2 separate regions of the Homo sapiens genome follow, and region 2 is linked to region 1. A link means that fine-mapping ties the variant in region 1 to the expression of a gene that starts in the linked region. Tissue or cell type: visceral fat. Region 1 holds a variant in brackets; the other region holds the start of a gene. All regions are shown on one strand. Distances are from middle to middle.

What was found. PIP is the estimated chance that this variant, and not a neighbour inherited with it, causes the effect.
Region 2: FAM114A2 starts here. The variant in region 1 is fine-mapped to the expression of FAM114A2 in visceral fat (GTEx, PIP 0.93).

Annotation. Positions count from the first base shown.
Region 1 is chr5:154,086,600-154,096,877 of GRCh38, forward strand. No RefSeq gene overlaps it. Among named protein-coding and RNA genes, the nearest start is that of MFAP3, 53 kb to the left of the region's middle. The variant A/G (reference allele first, on the strand shown) is at 5,578.
Region 2 is chr5:154,033,434-154,043,711 of GRCh38, forward strand. FAM114A2 (family with sequence similarity 114 member A2) reads right to left here and starts at 5,477. Exons shown (of 14, transcript NM_018691.4): 1 at 5,424-5,477; 2 at 1,311-1,534; 3 at 845-944; 4 at 358-450. The coding sequence starts at 1,520. It overlaps MFAP3 (microfibril associated protein 3), which reads left to right and starts at 5,534. Exons shown (of 3, transcript NM_005927.5): 1 at 5,534-5,578.

The sequences.
Region 1 (10,278 bases):
GTTCATTCCTTAATTTGTGAGACATTTACTGAATATTTTCTAGGTGCTAAGAATATAGAAAAGAATAAGATGGGCTCCCCGTTCTCAGGGCAATGGACTGATGAACAATGGAAGGATCTTCCAAACAACTATAATATGGTCCGACAAATGCTTTTCCAGAAGTACACACAAGCGTGGGTGTATACGGCAAGTGCCAAATTCTGGCTGGGTGGGGCCCAGAGGAGCAGATGTTGGGCTTGAGACATGAGGAGTGAGTCTAGGTTTTAAAAATAAATGAATCATTCAATCAACTGTGTAGTTCTTGATCCTCATTCAAACACCTGTGACTTAAACATGCATTTGTGAAACAGAAACCAACATTCCTAAACTAACTGACATATGGTGTGTGTAACCCCCACTTTTTCCCTCCATATGTCAGTGACCAATAGGAAAAGGAGCTTCCCTCCTGTGGGGCTCCTTAATCCAAATGGGTGACTAAAGTGAGGATGGATAGGGAACTGAACCAACAAAGTGATTAGAGAAGGCACTAATAAGGCTCCTCACCCATACTAGCTATAGAAAAGGGGGCCCTATGCTTTACAATCTCTAAGCTTTATTCTTAGTGATGAAGCTAAGGTTTTCAAAATAATCCAGTGCCTTCTGTCTCCCATCTCTCTCCCAAACCCAGAGCTGGAGAGTAAGAGAGGCATGGACCTGAAGCCAGACCCCCTACCCAACCGTTGATCAGACTTCACTCTGGACAGATGAAAGGTTTGAGCACTTTCTGAGTGACAGCTCACAGAGCTGGCATGTTACATTTAAGCCATTTACATTTTGGAGCCTGTGAGTCTGTCAAAACAATGCCACCCCCTGCTGTGACTCTGGCATAATAACTGGCTTGTGCAGAGCAAATCTTGACTCAACTTCCATGTGACCAACCATGTGAATGTGTGCAGATTAAAAGACAGAAAGAAACGAGATTTTTATTATTTTTTTTTTAATCTTTAACAAATACAGGCACCTTTTGGTCCAGGTTTCCCTCTGATTCAATGTCATGCACTAGTAAATCTGGATCTGAGACAGCCCAGTTTATCTTGGAGTATTAAGGACTTAGTGAAGCAAAGAAAACTCATTCTAAGGGTTTAAAGGAAGTTAAAGAATATCCTGTTACATTTTCAGGTTAAGGATCCTAAATGCCTTATTCACTGGTATATTCCATGGATTTGCCCAGGGTCTGATGTGTAGAAGATGACCGACAATATTCGTTGAGGGAATCAATGTTTTCAACAACACCATCTCTACCACTCCACCCCCAAAACCATACAAGGTTTCCTGCCATTCATCTATCCCTGGTAGTGTTGTCATCCATACCGCCTCCTCACATTTCTTAGAGAGCTACTTTGGATGATCCATCCTCATTTCATTTCTGAGTAGATTTACATCTTGCAGCTGAACCATTCATTCACTCTTTCATCAACTCTATGTTGTGTGGAGGGCCTATTTGGATCAAACACTTAATTAATGACAAAATTACAAAGGTAAGAGGCATATGGAAAATACCTTTGATAAGACTATAGTCCAGTAGAGAAGACAGGAACATGGGCCTCTAAAATCTAGGGTATGAGGCTCGGAGGAGATGAATAAAGACCAACATAGGAAAGAGAGGGAAAATTCTCAAGGGAACCCTAATAAGGTGTTCAGAGAAATGGAAGATGTCTAATTTGTGGGTATTAGAGCTTGGGAGTGTGTATCAGTGAAGGAACTATAAGTTGGGTATGTGTGGCGCAGCTAGGAGAATTGTCCGTCCTGGGTTGCCCGAAAACAAGCTAGCTAGGACCAGGATCCCCCCTCCTTCTCCACACCAGAAGGGCTGCCCCCACACTCAGCTTTCTACAGGACTGCTGGCTTCCTTCACCTGGGAGGGAGGACTCTAATTTTCTATGCACCGTAAGATGAATTGCAGGACAGCTGGTGTCCCCACACTATTTCTTTACATGGTTGGCCCCATAATTCTGGACTGATAGCACCGAGTAGCCTATGTGTTCCACCCTCTTCAAAGACTGTTTTCTCACTTTTGGTCTACAAATGGGAGAAGAACAGGGCCCACTTGGTCCCTACTGGCAATCAGATCCTTACTGCAGGCCCAGAAATGGCTCCTCCCTGTGAAGTATAGAAGCACCAGCTTTGTAAGTTTTCCATTTCCTCAATAAACCTTATTCGTTGTGCCATGTCAATCAATTTAAACCAAACCATGATGCATCATAGGCAGAGATCCACAAGGGTCCACCTCATATGACATGGGCCTGGGGACCCTGCAGAGGTAGGCAGCAAGGGTATCCTGGTGTGTGCAGGGTATGAACTATCCTGGTGTGTGCAGGGTGTGAACTATCGTGTGTGCAGGGTGTGAACTATCGTGGTGTGTGCAGGGTGTGAACTATCCTGGTGTGTGCAGGGTGTGAACTGGAGGAAGGGGGAATATATTAGGTTGGTGCTGCAGTTTTTGCCATTGAAAAGAAATGGCAAAAACCACAAGGACTTTTGCACCAACCTAATAGTAAAGAAGAGGGGATAGTGTGCGCTAGGAGTCATGGGACTTGGGACAGCAGGGACGGCCGGAACCTCTTTTGGGCAAGGCCTTTGCAGCAGACATCTGTTGTTTCTGCTTGCCTGCCTTCTTCCCGTTCTATTGCTAATAGTACATCAATGTTTCTCTGAAGAAACTTCCTTTCCCATACCATGCAGTCTGGCGGGCCTGTTAGTGCTGGCCATTCTCTGGCCAAGGAAAGAGCTAATTCATGCCATGAGAACCTCTCAGGGATTTAAATCCTGAGCACAATCACCAGGAACTGAAAACCATGGCACAGACTCACCAGATGGAGTCCCTAGGGAGTGAGTCCATTCTTGCCCTGGATCCCTCTGCTAGCCCTGCTTGAGGTGCCCACCTTTCCTTTGATTCTGTCAGCCCCACAGTCTTCCACCAGGTCCCCTTTGGGCCTGAGTTAACTTGAGCCAATCCGCAATTTGCAAACAAAGAAGCCTAGTGGCCAGTCTTGAACACTGAAGCTCACTGAGTGAATGCCATCCCAGGGCAAGAGTAACATTAGAATACATGCCTGATGTCTGTATGGTACTGTGCAGTTTCCTCACACTATTAGAGATATTGAAAAGTCAGATTCAGAAAATTTGGGGCCATCTGGCTTAGTGCTGTGACCTCAGACTCCTGCTGGGGATGTTCAATTAGAGAAAGAGATGTGTTGGTATCAAGGATGGCTCTTTATCTTTCCAACTTTTCTGAAGCTTGATAAAGAAATCAAAATTCTGTGTGCATGTGGGTGTGTTTCTGTGCCCAAGTGTCCTTGGGTGGTATTCCAAGAAGTCAAGCAATTTATCTGTCACTGTCATTTGCAAGAATTGCTCTTGGTTGATAAGATTTAAACCCAGCACATCCTCCAGTGCCTGTTGACAACCACTCCTGCCTGGAGCTCTGCCTGGGATCAGTCTTGCTCTGATTCTGCTCCATACTTTACTGCATTGGGTCCTGGAGATAAGAGATACCTAGCATGATTCTCAGACGATGTCCTCTTGAGCAAAAGCCTTTAAGCTTCCAGCTCACCTGCCCACATTCAGGCAATGAGCTACACATGTCCATCCCTTTCCCAGATTCCTCTCTACTGGGTAGAAAGGAGGAAAGAACCACATGAATTGTCAGAAGCACAACTCCAAAGCCCTTGAGGAAAAGGGCAAACTGAAAAGTTGCTGGATCTCTAGCTACATGATCACTGGGGCTCTACTCCTTGGTTTTGTGTGTAATCAACAACAGAGAATTTTGTTCCTCACTGCAGTGGGTTTTGCCATCAAACATAGTTGTCTTAGAGTCCATTGTCATCTTACCAAAGATGCATTCTGTACAATGCATACTGGATAAGGAAATTAAATCCAGGCTAGGAAAGGCAACTCAAGGTCACTATTAAATATATGGTCTGATTAATAAGGACATTTTTAATCATCTTAGAATCTCAGAGCCAGAAGCAATTTTAAAGGCCATCTATTTTCCAATTTTCATGTAATCCCCTCAAATTAAAAAATACATATACATGGATATGCGCATATTGGATGCTTATAGGCACTATGCTAAGTATTTTATATGTATTCTGTCATTGATATACTCTGAATCCTTACAACAACCCTCTGCAATAACCACCATTATTCTCCATTGTACAAACCAGGAACCTGGGGCTCAGAAGGTTTGGTCATTCACCCCACGTCATGCAGCAAGTATGTAGCAGAGCCTCTTCAGAGAAGGTGTCCCTGTAGCTCCTGGCCAAACCTGACCTGCGTGTGTACCTTAAAATTTTCCAGTATAGCTTCAATAATTTTTTTTTTTATTTTTGAGACGGAGTCTCCCTCTGTTGCCCAGGCTGGAGTGCAGTACACGATCTTGGCTCACCGTAACCTCCACCTCCTGGATTCAAGTGAATCTCGTGCCTCAGCCTCCTGAGTAGCTGGGATTATAGGCACCCACCACCACTCCCAGCTAATTGTTTTATTTTTATTAATTATTTTATTTTATTTTATTTTTGAGATGGAGTCTTGCTCTGTTGCCAGGCTAGAATGCAGTGGCACAATCTTGGCTCACTGCAACCTCCTCCTCCTGGGTTCAAGCGATTCTCTGCCTCAGCCTCCCAAATAGCTGGGACTACAGGCATGTGCCACCACACCCAGCTAATTTTTGTATTTTTAGTAGAGATGAGGTTTCACCATGTTGGCCAGGATGGTCTCGATCTCATGATCTCGTGATCCACCCGCCTCGGCCTCCCAACGTGCTGGGATTACAGGCGTGAGCCACCGCACCCGGCTGGCTTCAATAATTTTAAATGGAGGGTTTAACATTAGAAATATTCAGATTTGCACCTTTCCCTGAAAAGTCAGAAGACCTGGCCACACTGGGCTGGCATTCCTACATGGGAAGAATGAGCTCAAGCCAAGTAGTAGTCACCCCTTCAGACACAAATCAGATCACTGCAATAACCTGCTTAGGCTTTTCAATGGCTCCTAATCACACTTAGAATAAAATCCAAAGCCCTCACTACAGCCCACAGGGTCAGGCCTCTGCCTGCTGCTCCACTCTCGTCTTGTCTGACTCTCTGCTCCCCCATGCTAGCATTCTCTCCAGTCCCTGTACTTAAAAAGCCCCGTCCTTCTTCAGGGCCTTTGCTCTTACTGTTTCCTCCTTTGGGAAAGCTATTTCCTCTAGTCTGCCCATGTCTGACTTGTACTAAGCCTTTTGCTTAAATACCACTTCCTCAGAGAGGCCTTCTTGACTCCTGTAATAAATAGAATAATGCCTACTCCCCCTCTTGAAGATGCCCACATCCTAATCCCCAGACCCTGTGAATGTGTTACCTTACATGGCAAAAGGAACTTTGCAGATGTGATTAAGTATCTTGAGATGGGCAGATTATCCTGAATTGTCCTGGTGAGCCTGATGTAATTGCAGAAGTTCTTATAAGAGGAGGGTGGGAAAGGCAGAGTGAGAGAAACAGATTTAACAGCAGATATAGAGGTTGGCATGATGTGAGGAAGCGGCCCTGAACTGAG[A/G]AATTCAGGTGGCCTTTAGAAGCTGGAAAAGTGAATTTTCCCCTCCAGAATCTGACCTTTTCTGTAATCCTAAAACTTCTCTAAAAAATAAAGTCTATGAATAGTAATAAGAAAGAGAGAAAAACATGCAGACCCCTTTGGTTTAAATCTGGGTCAGGCACTTGCAAGTTGGGAACTCTTAGGAAGGTTATTTAATCTCTCAGCCTCAGCTTACTCGGCTGTAATATATGTCTCTTTCTACCCACCCGATGGAGCTGTTGTGAAAAACAAGTTAATGCCTAGTGTAGTTCCTGGCATCGTGTAGCAAGCACTCATAAGTATTAGGCTTAGGGATGGGGGGGAAGTGGAGATGTTGTTTGTTTTCTGTAAACACTCAAGAAGACATTGAAATTTTACTTGCTGGGAAGCTGTTGCTCAGAACTGCCTGCAGAATGGAATGTCATGCAGAGAATCTTGAGCCTCCAAGAGGAATGCAGCCCTGAGACACCTTGGCTTTAGCCCAGTGAAGTTGATTTTGAACTTCTGACCTCTAGAACTGTAAGAAAATATGTTTATGTTGTTTTAAGCCACTAAGTTTGTGTCAATTTTGTACAGCAGTAATAGGAAACTAATACAACCACTTATTTTAAAATACTCCCTTCCCCATTACTAGTCTCAAACTTAACCGTTTATTAGTGTCCATCCATGCACTTACCACAACTTGAAATTATTGTATTTGATTGTCTGCTTGCTTAGTTTTGGTCTCTGTGACTGCTAGACTGGAAGTCCCAAGAGGACAATACTATGTCTTTCTAGTTCATGGCTGTTATCCCAAAATAGAGCAACTGTCCAGCAACTGTAGGAGCTCAGCAGATATTTACTGAATAACTAAATTGGTTATTAAATAGTTTGCCTCGCTATTGATTTCAGGTGCCCTCATTTGAGTATATTGCAAGTTGAAAATGTCCCTACTTAAAGGTGGAATTTATGCTTGAACTCAGCCAGGTGCAAGTATTTCTCTAAAGCATAAGAAACAATCAGAGATTTTAAGGAAATCAGGCAGCAAGCCCAATGACAAAACAGGCAATATTCCCAAGATAAATTCATGTTCTGTTTCTTACATGCTTGCTACTCTCAGTGTCACCAGGGAGCTTGTTAGAAATGCAGAATATCAAGCCTCACCCCAGAGCTACTGAATCAGAATCTGCATTTTAACAAGATGTCCAGAAAATCCATATGCATGTTAAAGTTTCAGAATTGCGGCACCACATATTTGATTAAAGGGAAGTGCTCTTCAGAAAAACGAGCTACAAGTATACCTTCCATGGGCAGATGCAGCAAGCACTATCAACCCCATCACAGCCTGAGTGAGCCCTGACTCAACGGCTCTATGCTGCCATATCCCATCACCTGCTCACTAGGCTGAATTCTCTGTGGAGCCAGACAAAGAGGTGATGAATTTTTAGGCACCCATAAGTTCAATCAGAACTAGGCTTGAGCAGGGGAAGAAACCCCTTCCCACCAATGATGGTGGTAGTGGTGGTGGGGTCTGGCTTTGTTGACTCCTGCCCTGCATTATTCTTCCAGGAGTGGAAGAAACTAGAAACTACTGAAAGCCTCTAGGTAGCTGGGTCAGGAGTAAGCCTACTGAGCTACTGCTACCCAGAAAAACCCCTCACACCACCCCATGTGTCCTACAATAAATGTTTGCTAAAAAAATGTGTTTGTTAGTGCAGATGGGACCCCCGTATGCATGGATTCACTATCTCTGTGCTTCAAAAAGCTCTTGTTAGTCCTTTCCAGTGGCCAACACTCAGTGCAGCATGTGGAGCATAATAGATATGTAATAAATATCTGTTGAATGAATAGTGAATCTACAGATGGTCTGTTGGGAAAACTGAGCCATACTGTTCTTATAGTACCTACCATTCTTCACCTGTATTGGCAAGTCCTTGTAGTAGCAAATATCAGAAACCCAACCAAAATACACTTGAATGAAAAAGAATGTACAGGTGCACATGAATACAGTTTGATTGTGGGTGTATATTATATCCTTATGACCTAATTTCTCTTTTTCATTTCTCCCACAAATGATCCTGTTCTCAGACACATTCTCCCTTGGGCCACAATAGAGCTGCCACTGCTCCTCATACCCTCTCAGCTTCAAATTTATGAACTCTCAATGCAGGTTTCATTGGTTCCCACTAGGTAACATTCTCATTCCTAAATCAATCCCCTGGGAAATGCAATTCAGTAATGGGTTTAAGTCTGGTCTTAGGTTCCGCACCTGCCGTATGGCAGTGGGGTGATGGCTATCCATGCTTGAACATTCCTGGAATGTTCTCCAAGCAAAAGCTCAGAGAAATGAAGGTCATGTTCAGGGAACAGTGAGGTCAGAATAAAATTGGGATGAAAGGCGAGGGTCAGATTAGGAAATATCTGAAACTTCAGCCTAAGTAATGTGCCTTCAAGGAAGCTATAGATTGTAAAAATTAAAAATATATACCAGGATAAACAAACTATGGTACATCCATACAATAGAATATTACTCAGCAAAAAAAAAAAAAAAAAGAAGAAGAAGAAGAAATGAGCTATCAAGCCACAGAAAGACATAGAGGAACATTAAATGCATATTGCTAAGTGAGAGAAGCCAATCTGAAAAGACTATGTACTACTGCATGCTTTTAAATATATGACAACTGGAAAAGGCAAATCTATGAAGACAGTGAAAAGATCAGTGGTTGCCAGAAGTATGGGGAGAGGAAGGAGGGGATGAATAGGTGGGAGACAGGGCATTTTTAGGGCTGTGAAACTTTTCTGTATAATAGTATAAGGTAGATACATGTCATTACACATTTGCCAAAACCCACAGAACGTGCAACACCAAGAGTGAATCCTGCTGTAAACTATGGACTGGGTGACTATGATGTGTCAGTGTAGATTCATTATTTATAATAAATAAACCACACTAAGGCAAGATGTTAGGGGAAACTGAGGTGGGGATAAGAGAGTATATAGGAACTATAATTTCTGCTCAGTTTTTCTGTAAACGTAAAAATCTCTAAAAAATAGTCTATGAATAGTAATAATAAAAGAAAGTGGGAGAAAAATGCAGACCACTTTGGTTTAAATCTGGGTTAGGAGCTTACAAGTAGGGAGCTCTTAAGCAGGTTATTTAATATCTCAGCCTCATGTTACTCAGCTGTAATATGTACTTATTAGTACCCAACTCATAGTGCTGTTGTGAAAAACAAGTTAATGCATGAAGCACCTGGCATCATGCAGCAAGCACTCATAAGTGTTAGGCTTGGGGGTTGTTGGGGAGGTGTCTTTTGTTTTCTGTAAACACTCAAGAAACCATTGAAATTTTCTATGCTGGGAAGCTGATGTTGAGGACTGCCTGTAGAATAGACTGTCACTCAGAGAAGTTAGGGTCAGGAAGATAAGTTAGGACATTATTCTGAGAGGAATGTGGACATTGCTGTAGAGATAGGGGAGGTAATGATGGAAGAAGTGTTGATTAATGGGGAATATGAAGAGGAGCCTTGGAAGGAGAACAGGGTGCCTTGAATGAAGACCAGAAATGTTGGGGTTTGGGGGAGTAAGCACTGGAATCTTAAACTGATGAAAGAACTGTCTGGATTACTGAGATCATTTACCCCTTCCTCTCCAGCTCAAGATAGTCTTCGTGGCTGACTGCCATACAAGAATCCTAACATCATTTCCTTTCTCCAAAGCAGAAAGTGGAGTTTTACACAGAAATTTACCTGCTAGCTACACTGCTGCCTTGACATTTTAAGTGGTACCTGCCCTTCTGCGTCAGACATTTCCCTCAAATGAGAAAGTGACAAGCTTCCCTAATGGGCGTTTGTTCGAATGTTCAACCAAGTGAGAACTCGGCTAGAGTGGGGAAATCTGGCGCCTGCTGAAGACAAAGGGAACATCAGCAACAAATATATTCAGAGCAATTATCTTGGGGACCTCCCACCCAGTGTCCCCTCCCTTAGCCAAGCAACATCTTCAGGAGGAAGGCTGAGCGCTGGCTGTCGTGCCTCCTCCCTGCCTCCTGCTGAGTCACCATAGCAAATTGCAGCAGACAAATAGAGCAGCCTCAAAATTGGCAAGATCAGGTCCTAGGGAGCACAAGCATTGGCCTTTTCAATTTGAAAATTTGAAAATTTCAATTTTTAAGACAAATTGGCATAAGACTCTCATAGAAGAAAGAACAGTAAAGGTCGTGTGGACCCATCTTGCTGTCCTGTGATTGAACCCCTTCTGTCATGTTGTTGCCATGTGGTTCCCTAGCTATGCTTCAAGCTTACATCCAGGGACAGGGAGCTCACCACTAAAACAGGGCTACCTGGTTAATTCAAGGGCTTAGAGCTAACCCATTAATTTTACAGCTGGAGAATTCAAAGCTCCATGAGAAAGTGCCTTGCCTTTAATTGCCAGATGAGCCAGGGGCTGACCTTCCCATGTATTCTAGAACCCCTCCTTGAGCACGTTTACCAGGCAGAACATGATGGTTAAAAGGTCAGGTTCTCGTGGTGTCTGGCAGACCTGAGTGCAAAACCAATCTATTGCCCTCGGTCAAACTATTTTTTCTTTTTAAGTTCCAGGAGTTTTTTTTGACTAAAATATAGGGACAATAATTGTACCTACTTACTGGTTTGTCATAAGGATTACATGAGAAAATGATACAGCATACTTATCATACAGTGC
Region 2 (10,278 bases), 53 kb before region 1:
GTCACAACAGACTCAGATTCAGCTAACTCTTATTAGTCTCTTATTCAATTATGCCAAGCAAAATGCTAAGCAATTTTTATATTGTATATTCATGGCCTTATTTGTTAAATGTTTATAACAGTCACTTGAGATATAAAATATCATTCTATTTCAGATGTGGAAAGTGAAGTAAAGGGACACATAAGCAGTTAAAGGACATAGATGTCTAATTGGGAACTAAAGATTCTAAATACTCTTTCTCACTACAGTCCCACGATGCCCTGAGTATCAGATGTCCAATAAATACCTACTGAAAAATTAGTTCAACTGTTCCATTTCAATTCATAATTCTAGGTCTTTATGTTTCCATATACTGACCTGCTACATACTTGACTTCAGTTGAAATTTCACTGGGACCAGGGATTCCAAGGGAAGTCTCTGCCTTCTCGATGACATTTGAAATGCCTTGTCCTAATGAGAAAAATAACTTTTTTTTTTGCTATTTGTCACCAAAACTGAAGAAACAAAAATCAAACTTGAAGATTTTTAAAATCATTTAGGACCACAAGACATGTTATTTTGACAATACATAACTAATCTTGGCACTATTTCCTTAAAAAAATTGATTCATCATCACCAAAGAATAAGTTCACAGTAATAATTCCTAGACTTCAATATTCTAATGAGGAAATGCTACAAACTCTAGTGGCAGTATATATCAGCCCATCATTACTAATGCATCCTCAAATTATAAAGCCTTTGAGTAAACATGGAAGGAAGAAGAATTTTAACCAAGTCATATGCAATGCAGATCTGTATAAAATAAATACACACACAAAAATAACTAAATGACTGATGATCTTACCTACTGTAGCTACTGTAGCCGAGGCTGAGGAGAGTATGGACTTGCCCCAGCTCCCCCAATAACCCCATCTGGTCTGGGGTACATCTTTGGAAACATTATCCTAATTTCCCAGTAGGCAGAAAAACAAAAGGCAAAGAAAAATGAAAAAATTAGAGGAAAATCAGAATGTACAGACAAGGTATCTAATTATTAGCCAAAAGCATGGGTGAACAAATACATATTATTTAGCTAAAGAAATGTATTGCTTGACTGGCAGATATATGCTATCAGCATGTAAGTACCACATAGCAAAAGCAATTATTCATAAAGGCATTTATAGAACTGAAAAGACTGTATTTTAGGGTTGTAAAGAGAAAGAAATAAGAGCAATTCTAAATTGGTATTTATGCCAAATTTCTTTTAGCCCCAACATTTTTTAATCCTAATATTTTAATAGATACCCTACTTTTTCTGTGGTCTGTGATACCTGAATAGGGAGAACTTTTGAAGTCTCAAGGTCACTGGAAGGTTTGGTCTCTGGTCTTTTCCGAGTGGAAACTACAGGTTCTGATTTACTCTCTGGTTTGGCACCTTGGTCAACAGACTCAGAATTCTTGGCTGGCTCACAGTTTCCATCTTCAAGGATGGGGGCTGCTTCAGTTAGCAGTGGAGTCTCAATATCATCTTTATCTGACATGATTAGAACATCAGCTGGTAAAATGAAAGCCCAAAAAAAATTTATATAGGCTTCTTTGGTATAAAGTATTTGTTTAAACTTTTTAGTTTGAGATTATCATAGATTCACATACAAGTATAAGGAATAATACAGAGATCCCATATACCTTCATCCAGTTTCCCCCAATGGTAAAACTTACACAAATATAATATCACAACCAGGAAACTGATATCAATGCAATCCACTGATCTCATTCAGACTTTATCAGTTTTAAACGCACTCATTTGTATTTAGTTCTATAAAATTTTATCGCATGTATACCTTTGTGTGACTATCACCACAATCAAGATACAGAACAGTTCAATCACAAGGATCCCTTGTGCTATCCTTTTTTAGCCATAACCACTTCCGACACTCCTTCCAACCCAAAGCAATTACTGATCTCTCTGATGGACAGGTGTCCTCCATCTCTGTAATTCTGTCATTTCAAGATGTTATATAAATGAAATCATACAGCATATTACCTATTGACATTGACTTTTTTCACTCAGCATAAGCCCCTCAAGATCCATTTAAGTTGTATTAGTATTCCTTCCTTTTTATTTCTGAGTAGTATTCCATAGTATAGATGTATCACAATTTACCCATTTATCCATCGAAGGATATCTGTATTGTTTCCAGTTTGGGACTATTATAAATAAAACAGCTATGAAAGTTCATGTATAGGTTTTTGGGGGAACATAAGCTATCATTTCTCTGGGGTAAATGACCAAGAGTGCAACTGCTGGGTCATATGGTTAAGTTCATGTTTAGTTTTATGAGAAACTGCCATACTCTTTTCCAGACTAGCTACACCATTTTACATTTCCACCAGCAATGTATGACTGATAAGTTTTTCTGCATTCTTGCCAGCATTTGACATTGTCCCTATTTTTTATTTGAGCCATTCTGACAGTTGTGTGGTGATATCTCATTGTGGATTTAAGTTGTACTTCTCTAAGACCTAATAAGGTTGAACATCTTTTCATGTGCCTATATGCCATCTGTATATCCTTGTCAGTGAAATATCTTTGTATCTTTTGCCCATTTTCTAATGAGATTTTTTTTTTACTGTTGAGTTTTGAGAGCTCTTCATATATTCTGTATAATATGTGGTTTGCAAATATTTTTTTCCAGTATGTAGCTTATCTTTTAATTGTCTTCATTGGGCCTTTCAGAGCAAGTCTTTAATTTTAATGAGGTATAATTTATCAATTTTTCCTTTTACTTATTGTCCTTAAAAATCTTACTAGTTATTAATCATTCCTACCTCAATTTTTCCAGGACATCATGAAATTTAAGCCATCAGATTGGCTTTATGTCAGATCAACTTTTGAATACCAGTGTTACTCAATTCAATTCCTTCCAGATGTAGAGCTCTTTGGCAATTAAAGCCAAGATACTATTGGTGTCTCTACAAAGAACAGACACTAGTTTCCAGGATAACCAAGGATTATCAGAGTAGAAATCAATACATCTCACACATATGTACACACACGCTGTAGGTATGTACTGATATGTACTAAGTGCAGAATTAGACCCAACCCATGCTATCAAAATGTTTCTAATGTATTAGAAAAGAAAGGCATATTAAAACTAAGGCAGACTGGATGCAGCACTATAACAGGTGCTGCATTCAGTCCAACACACAAAATGCTGAAACATCCCTGCCAGACCATCCAACACACAAAATGCTGAAAAAAAACAGAACTCCATTAGAATCAGACAACGTAATTCATGAACAAAGTACCTGAAATAAGCCTAGAGTAGTGGTCACAAACTGGGAATTTAAGTGCCAAATCCAGCCTACAGATGTTTTTATTTGGCCTGCACAGTATTTAACCTTTGCAAAAACTAGATGCCAACATTTAAAAATCAGACTTCATATAAAAATATAGGCTTCCAACTTCTAACTTGTAAAATTAAAAGATCTAGCAACACCGGGCCCACATTCAACTCTGTAATAACTAGCTTGTGCTAAATAGCCGCTGGGCCCTTTTAGCTAGGGCAGTTGCTCTCCAGCTCCCTACAATCCCCCACGCAAATCCACTTCACTCAAATTATGCTACCTGATTAACCTCTGTAGGCATCTGAGTTGGCAACACCTGCCTTAAAAGAAGCTTATGATTTTGACAGATGATGATGCCAATGACAGGATTCAAGGATATGGAAATAACATGAGGGTACAGCCAAAGGCCTGAGGTCTGACAGTATGGAACATGGACAGTTACAGTAGGGAGTAGTTACCATGGCAGAGAGAAGAACAATGGGAAGGCATGAAGCTAGAAAGGTAGATTAAGACAACACTATGGAGTTCAGAATATATGGGCATATAATATAAACACATTACACATTTCCAAAACACATAGAGAAAAAATCCAGATACAACTACTCACTGACATACAAACCAACTTAGAAGTAGCCATTCATTCACTCGCAAACATTTTTTGAGTACCTACTACGTACCAAGTAGTACCACAGTACCTGTGGAGATAGAGAACTAATGTAAGCCATTCACTCCAAGGGCCTATCTAATAGGAAAGACGAGACAGTTTTTGCACAAAGTTCAATTAATGTTTTGTGTATATGAATAAATGTTTCCTATCTTTTCCTTATGCTCTCTCCAGGTTGCAACGCATCATTATCATCATCATAAATATATACAGTATACTATATGTAGAATATATAATATACATATTACATAAATTCATATAATTCCATGAAAGACTGGAAGGACATACTCCAAAATATATTTTTAAAGACAGGGTCTCGCTATGTTGGCCAGGTTGGTCTTGAACCCTAGGCCTGGCCTCAAGCAATCTTCCCCTGCCTCAGCCTCCCAAAGTGCTAAAATTACAGGCGTGAGCCACCATGCCCTGCCAAAACAGTCCCTTTACTAAAATATTAAACACTGGTTATCTCTATTCTTTCATTTGTGCCAGATATTTGAGCTAAGCCAGAAGAGAATTTTTTATGGTGATGGTTGTTTATATTATCATTACTATCGTTATTAGAATGACTGTACCATCTCTTTCCTCAACTCATTCATAATCTAGGAGAAAGGTTAAAAAAAAAAAAGGAATAAACACCAAGTACGTGGAACTGCACTATTTAGTGTTTTTGTAAGTCTTCCAGGCATTGTGTAGTAAGCGTGTAGAAATAATTGTAGTTTCTCCTCCAGTTATTTTCTCAGTTGGAGGAGAAAGATTCCAATAACTGTAAATAAATACGGCTGAGCCATATTTTTAAGAAATAAAAACGCATACGCTTACACACACACATATATATTACGTATATATACACTCCACCCGCCCCATTTACCAAAATGAAGAGCAGTACAGCTTAGTAGCTAAGAGCACGGGCTCTGGAGTTTACTTTCTTCCTGTCCTGCAGCGATTGTGGGGAAGTCAGGTCACCTGTCTGCCTCTCCGTTTCCTCATCTGTCAAATGGAGTTCTGGGTCCCTATAAAGATTCAGTGACGCGATATGTGAGGGGCTTGGAACAGTGACCGGCACGTAACCGCCCACAGGTTAACAGCTGCTATCACTTGGTGGGGTGATGGTTTGTATCCTATCGTTATTAATACGGCTGTCTCTAGATGAGCAAACATGCGCTCTCACTTCTTCCCACATTCAAGAATGGGGTCCCAAACGAGAGATTCGACGTAAACGTCCGCTCCCAACTAAGTTCTCAGGCGCTGACAACGACAAGAATTCCTCACACAAACGTAGCGCTTCAATCACTAAACCGCTTTCACAGCCCTCGACCCTGCCGCGAGATGTCCGCCGCCCACCGTCAGGTCACCGCCTCCCTAACGACTTCGGCTGCCCGGGCCCTGCCCCTGAACCTCGCACCCCTCCTGCCTCGTTCAGGAAGCTCCGCACCTATCCGGCCGCCACCCTCAGCACAGCCACGGCAGCCGACTCGGCGTTCCTACTGCCCCGGAAGTGCTCCTTCAGCGCAGAGGCGTGCCGGTGTGTCCGAGAAAACTTCCGAGTTAAGCCGCCGCTGAGGCCGGAAGGAGCTAGACGGCGGTCGGGTAGGTGACGGCTTGGTTGGGGTCGCTGCGAGGGGACTACTAGGAGCGCCGAGGCGTGAGTCGTAGCCTGTGGCTTGGGGTCGGGAGTGCAGGAGGCGAAAATGTTTGCCATTCTTTTGAAAGTCTGGCCTGGGTGTGGGAGTTCGGTCATCGAACACTTACTGAGAGCCAGATACCTGCCAGGCACTGCCCTGGGCTCCAGGGACACATCAGTCAACGAACGGAAGGGCCCTGCTCTCAAGCAGTGCGAAAAGCAGATTATAAACAAGTCAACAAACGGGATTATCTAAGGTGGTAGTAAGTGCTGTAAAGAAATTTAGACTGGATAATGTGATGGAACGAAGTGGGAGAGTAATAAGCCGTATGAAAATCTGGAATAGAGCATTCCAGGCAGAGAGAATAGCGCGTGCAAAGGCCATATAGTGGGAACAAACTTAGCAAAGTCAAGGAAAAGACAAAGGCCACTGGCTAGAGCAAAAGGAGCAAGGTGAGAATGGAGAGAGATGAGGCCAGGGACTTGAGCCCAAATCTTGTAAGGCTTATGAGCAAGGATAAAGAGTTTGATTTTTGTTTGGAATCCAGTGGAAAACCATTGAAGGTTTCTAAGCAGATGAATGACATGATCTGATTTATGACTCTAAGATTACTCCTGGGACCTCATCAGAAAGATGCAACTCTTCTGTTGCCCTCGAGCAGTGAAAATGCATGAAATCCAGACTGACAGAGCTAGTAAAATATTAAAATCAATCTTATTGTACAGATAAGAAAAACTGAATCCCAGAGAGGTGAAGGGACTTAGCCTTTAAGAACTCATGTTTTCCAACTCCATTTAATGCCCTCGGAATTATCATCTTAATTCCCAGATAAGAGTAATTGTCACTTCTAAAACTCTTCAGATATTTTCCTTTGCTTTTGACAGTGGTTCTCTAAATTTAGGTTCATCAATATCACCTGGAAGCTTGTTAAAATTCCAAAAAACAACAACAAAAAAACCCCTGCTTAAATATAAAATGGATCATTTCCTCTGATTTTCTGTTGTAATGGAAAATGCATAGAATTTGGGGCTAAAGTATGGAATCTTGGGAAGCCACTTATTTTTTAAATGCTGCTGATAATTATAGCAGCAGTTCTCAAACTTTTTGATCTTAGAATTTCTTTATACTTTTAAAATGTATTGAGAACTTCAAAGGGTTTTTGTTTATAATAGCTATCAATATTTACTATTTTAGAAAACAACTTTCAACAAAGGTTATTCATTTTAAAATAAACTCATTATATGTTAACATAGATAGCATTTCTGTAAAGGATATTTTCCAAAATGAAAAATTATTGAGAATGGCATTGTTTTACATTGTTACAAATCTCTTTAATGTCTGGCTGAATAAAAGACAGCTAGATTTTCGTAACTTCTACCTTCATTCTCTTACAATATCAATCATCATGTAACTTTTAGAAAATTGTGCCATATTGTGTGAGAATGTGAGTGAAAAAGGGATATGTCCTAATATTATGTAAATTGTTTTGAAACAGTGTCAGGGACACCCAGGAGTTCCTGCACCACACTTTTGAGAATTACACTGAATTACGGTGATTGTCATGCCAGTAAAAGAAATATGAGTTTGATTTGTAAATCAATAAACCTATATGCACATTAAAAATGCAGATGCCCAGGCATCCCCTAGAGATCCCAATTCAATAAGTCTGTGGGGTCAAGAAATCTGCATCTTTAACAAGCACCACAAATTAATTTGATATAAATGGTCTGAAAATTACAGAGTGAGAAAACCAGTCAAATGATTCTCTAGAGTGTTCTGCCTACTAAAACTCAAGATAGGTGTCTTTCTTATCTTCACCTCTCTCCATCAATAGTTTCCAGAGCCTGAAGCTCTGGAAAGTTAATAAGTTTGTAGCAGACACCTTTCACACTACCAAGTCGATGAGTGTCTGAACTCAAAATTTTGAGCACTTGCCACAGGCAGTGGCCCTGTGCTAAGGACAGAAGGTTTTTAGACTCTATCATTCATAAGCTTACAGTCTTTTGAACGGATAACTAACTGCTAAGAGGAAAACTGATAAGTCTTATAATGGCGTACTCTTAATGTGCTAGGGGACTGACAGAGCAAAAAAAAAAAAAACTCATCTGACAAGAGGGTGGGCATGAGAGGGTTTCCTGAATAAGATGAAATTAGAGTTGAATATTATAGAGAGGGTACAGTTTCCCCCAGAAAGATATTGACGGGAAGGGGCAGAAAGATTTTTAAGCAAAAGGAACAACTAGTAAGGTGAAAAGTTATTTAGAGAGAATAAAGTAAAACAAGCGTAGTTTAGGCTTTCAGCCATGGCAGGAAAGCTGGGTAGATTATAGGATTTAAGCAAAGAAACGAATGATAATGATAATCAGCCTCTAGGTGAGGAAACTAAAACCACTGGAGCACATCATAGCTAATTTGTGATAGAGGTAAAACTAAAGACCAGACTTAATGTTTAAATCCATTCATTCCTCCTGCAAGCAATTATCGTACATAGAGGCACCTCTGGGCTTCTCATGACTTTCTGTTCTGCTGCCTGAATCTATTCTTGGAGAATTACAATGCCAAATTGGAATTTTAAGCTTATCTCATGGGCAGTGAGAAATCACCAGTAGATTGTAAAATTACCCTGAATTGCTCAGATTTGTGTTTAGGACCAATTCTGAGTGTCACAGTGTTTGGATACATCATAGAGGTAAAAGGAGTTAAGGAGATCCATTCTGAAATTAAGGGGATAGTGTGGTATACCCAGGTGAGATAAAAGGATATGAGTTAGGACAGAGACAACAGGACTTAATTGAAAAATGTGTAGGAGGTGGAATAATAACAATAGCATATATTTATAATTTACCCACATTAGTTCATCTTATCCTCAAAACTACCCTATGATGCAGTTACTGTTAATATTATTTTATTTAATAAATGTGAAAACTAAGGCCTTGCAAGCCTATGGCTTCACCCAGGGGTAGGATCAGGCACCTTAACTCTAGAGCCCATTCTCCTAACCACTGAGCCATGATTGTCTTACAATTTTGATACTGCAAAACTGGAAGAATTGTCTGGCTATTATCTAAGCTGTTCATAAGCTGAACAAGTAGATCTGAGGGTAAGAGGAGTTCTGTTTTAACTAGACTGAGTTTCAAATAGAGATGTTTCAGACTATAGAGGGGGAAAAATGGCCTGGGAAGATCATAAATCTAAGCCTGTTTCATTGATGTTTTTGTCATTTGCATCCAGTAGCTATTCAGCAAATATACCTATGGCAAAAAGGATATAAGTTATGGGTATAACTGAAATAATCCTGGGTTTAAAGCAAAGCTCTGATAAATACAGACGATGTTTCTCCAGGTGCCAGAAGATATGTTGAAGTTTGAGCTCAGACTGACCAAATGCTAGTTATGGGGTATGTGATAGCTCCAAGGTAGTAATATAAAGGCTATTTTAATTAGAAACTTTTGAGTAAATGGCCCTCAGGATAGTGATTTCTGTTTGAATGTCACTAACCTTTTTTAGTTACAGATCCCTATAATAATGCTTGAGTCTAGGCAGAACAACTTTGTGTTTATTCTTTGCAAAGGGTAGGGTAGTGCTAACAACCTGCTCTTCATTTGCTTTTTCTCCCCTTTGCCGATTCAGAATGCTGCTTTGTCAATTTGTGTGCCTGCTGTAGGAACTGGTCCGTTTTCCAAGTGTGACAGTGCAGGCAGAGAAGGGTGGATGAGCTGTAAATGCAGCCTAGAACACATTTGATTATAGAGAATGAAGCACTAATATCCCAATATAATTGGAGTTTAAAAAAAAAAAATACCACCTGGGCATCAATGTGTTTCCCTGCTTTGCATTTTCCCAGAACTATTTCTGCAAACATCAGTTTCCTCAGCCAACTTAATATTGAGTCACCAGAACGGAAATCAGCCATATTACTTCCTTATTTGTGTTGAAAATTGGAACAGAATGGAAATATTTCTTCCCTCAGAAGTTGGCAGGAACGGCAACAAGACAATCTGTTAGGGGTGACAGCTATAGGCTCTTCTCTTTTTTAAAAATAATATAGTCAATATTCAACATGGTTTTCTGGGGTAAAATCATCCACATTTCTGATTCTTTATGATCCTAGCAAAGCTTACATTCTGTATACCTGAAAGATGAAAAAGGAGTTGGATTAAACTTGAGTCTTACACTTATCTATTACATTTTTATTTATTAATGCTGAAGAAAGGTAATATAGGCTGGGCGCGGTGGCTCACGCCTGTAATCCCAGCACTTTGGGAGGCCGAGGCAGCCAGATCACCTGAGGTTGGGAGTTCAAGATCAGCCTGTCCAACATGGAGAAACCCCGTCTCTACTAAAAATACAAAAAATTAGCCAGGCGTGGTGGTGCATGCCTGTAATCCCAGTTACTTGCGAGGCTGAGGTGGGAGAATCGCTTGAACCTGGGGGGTGGAGGTTGCAGTGAGCCGAGATCTCACCATTGCGCTCCAGCCTGGGCAACAAGAGCGAAACTCCGTCACACACACACACACACACAAAAAGGAAAGGTAATAAAAAATTTTATCAAGTAACTTCATCCACAAACATAGTATAGCCCTTTTTAACTGATAAGAAGAAGGTGACACTTTGGTTTTCCTTTTTGAAATCTGTTCTTGGGTTTCAAATGTCAGCTGCTACATT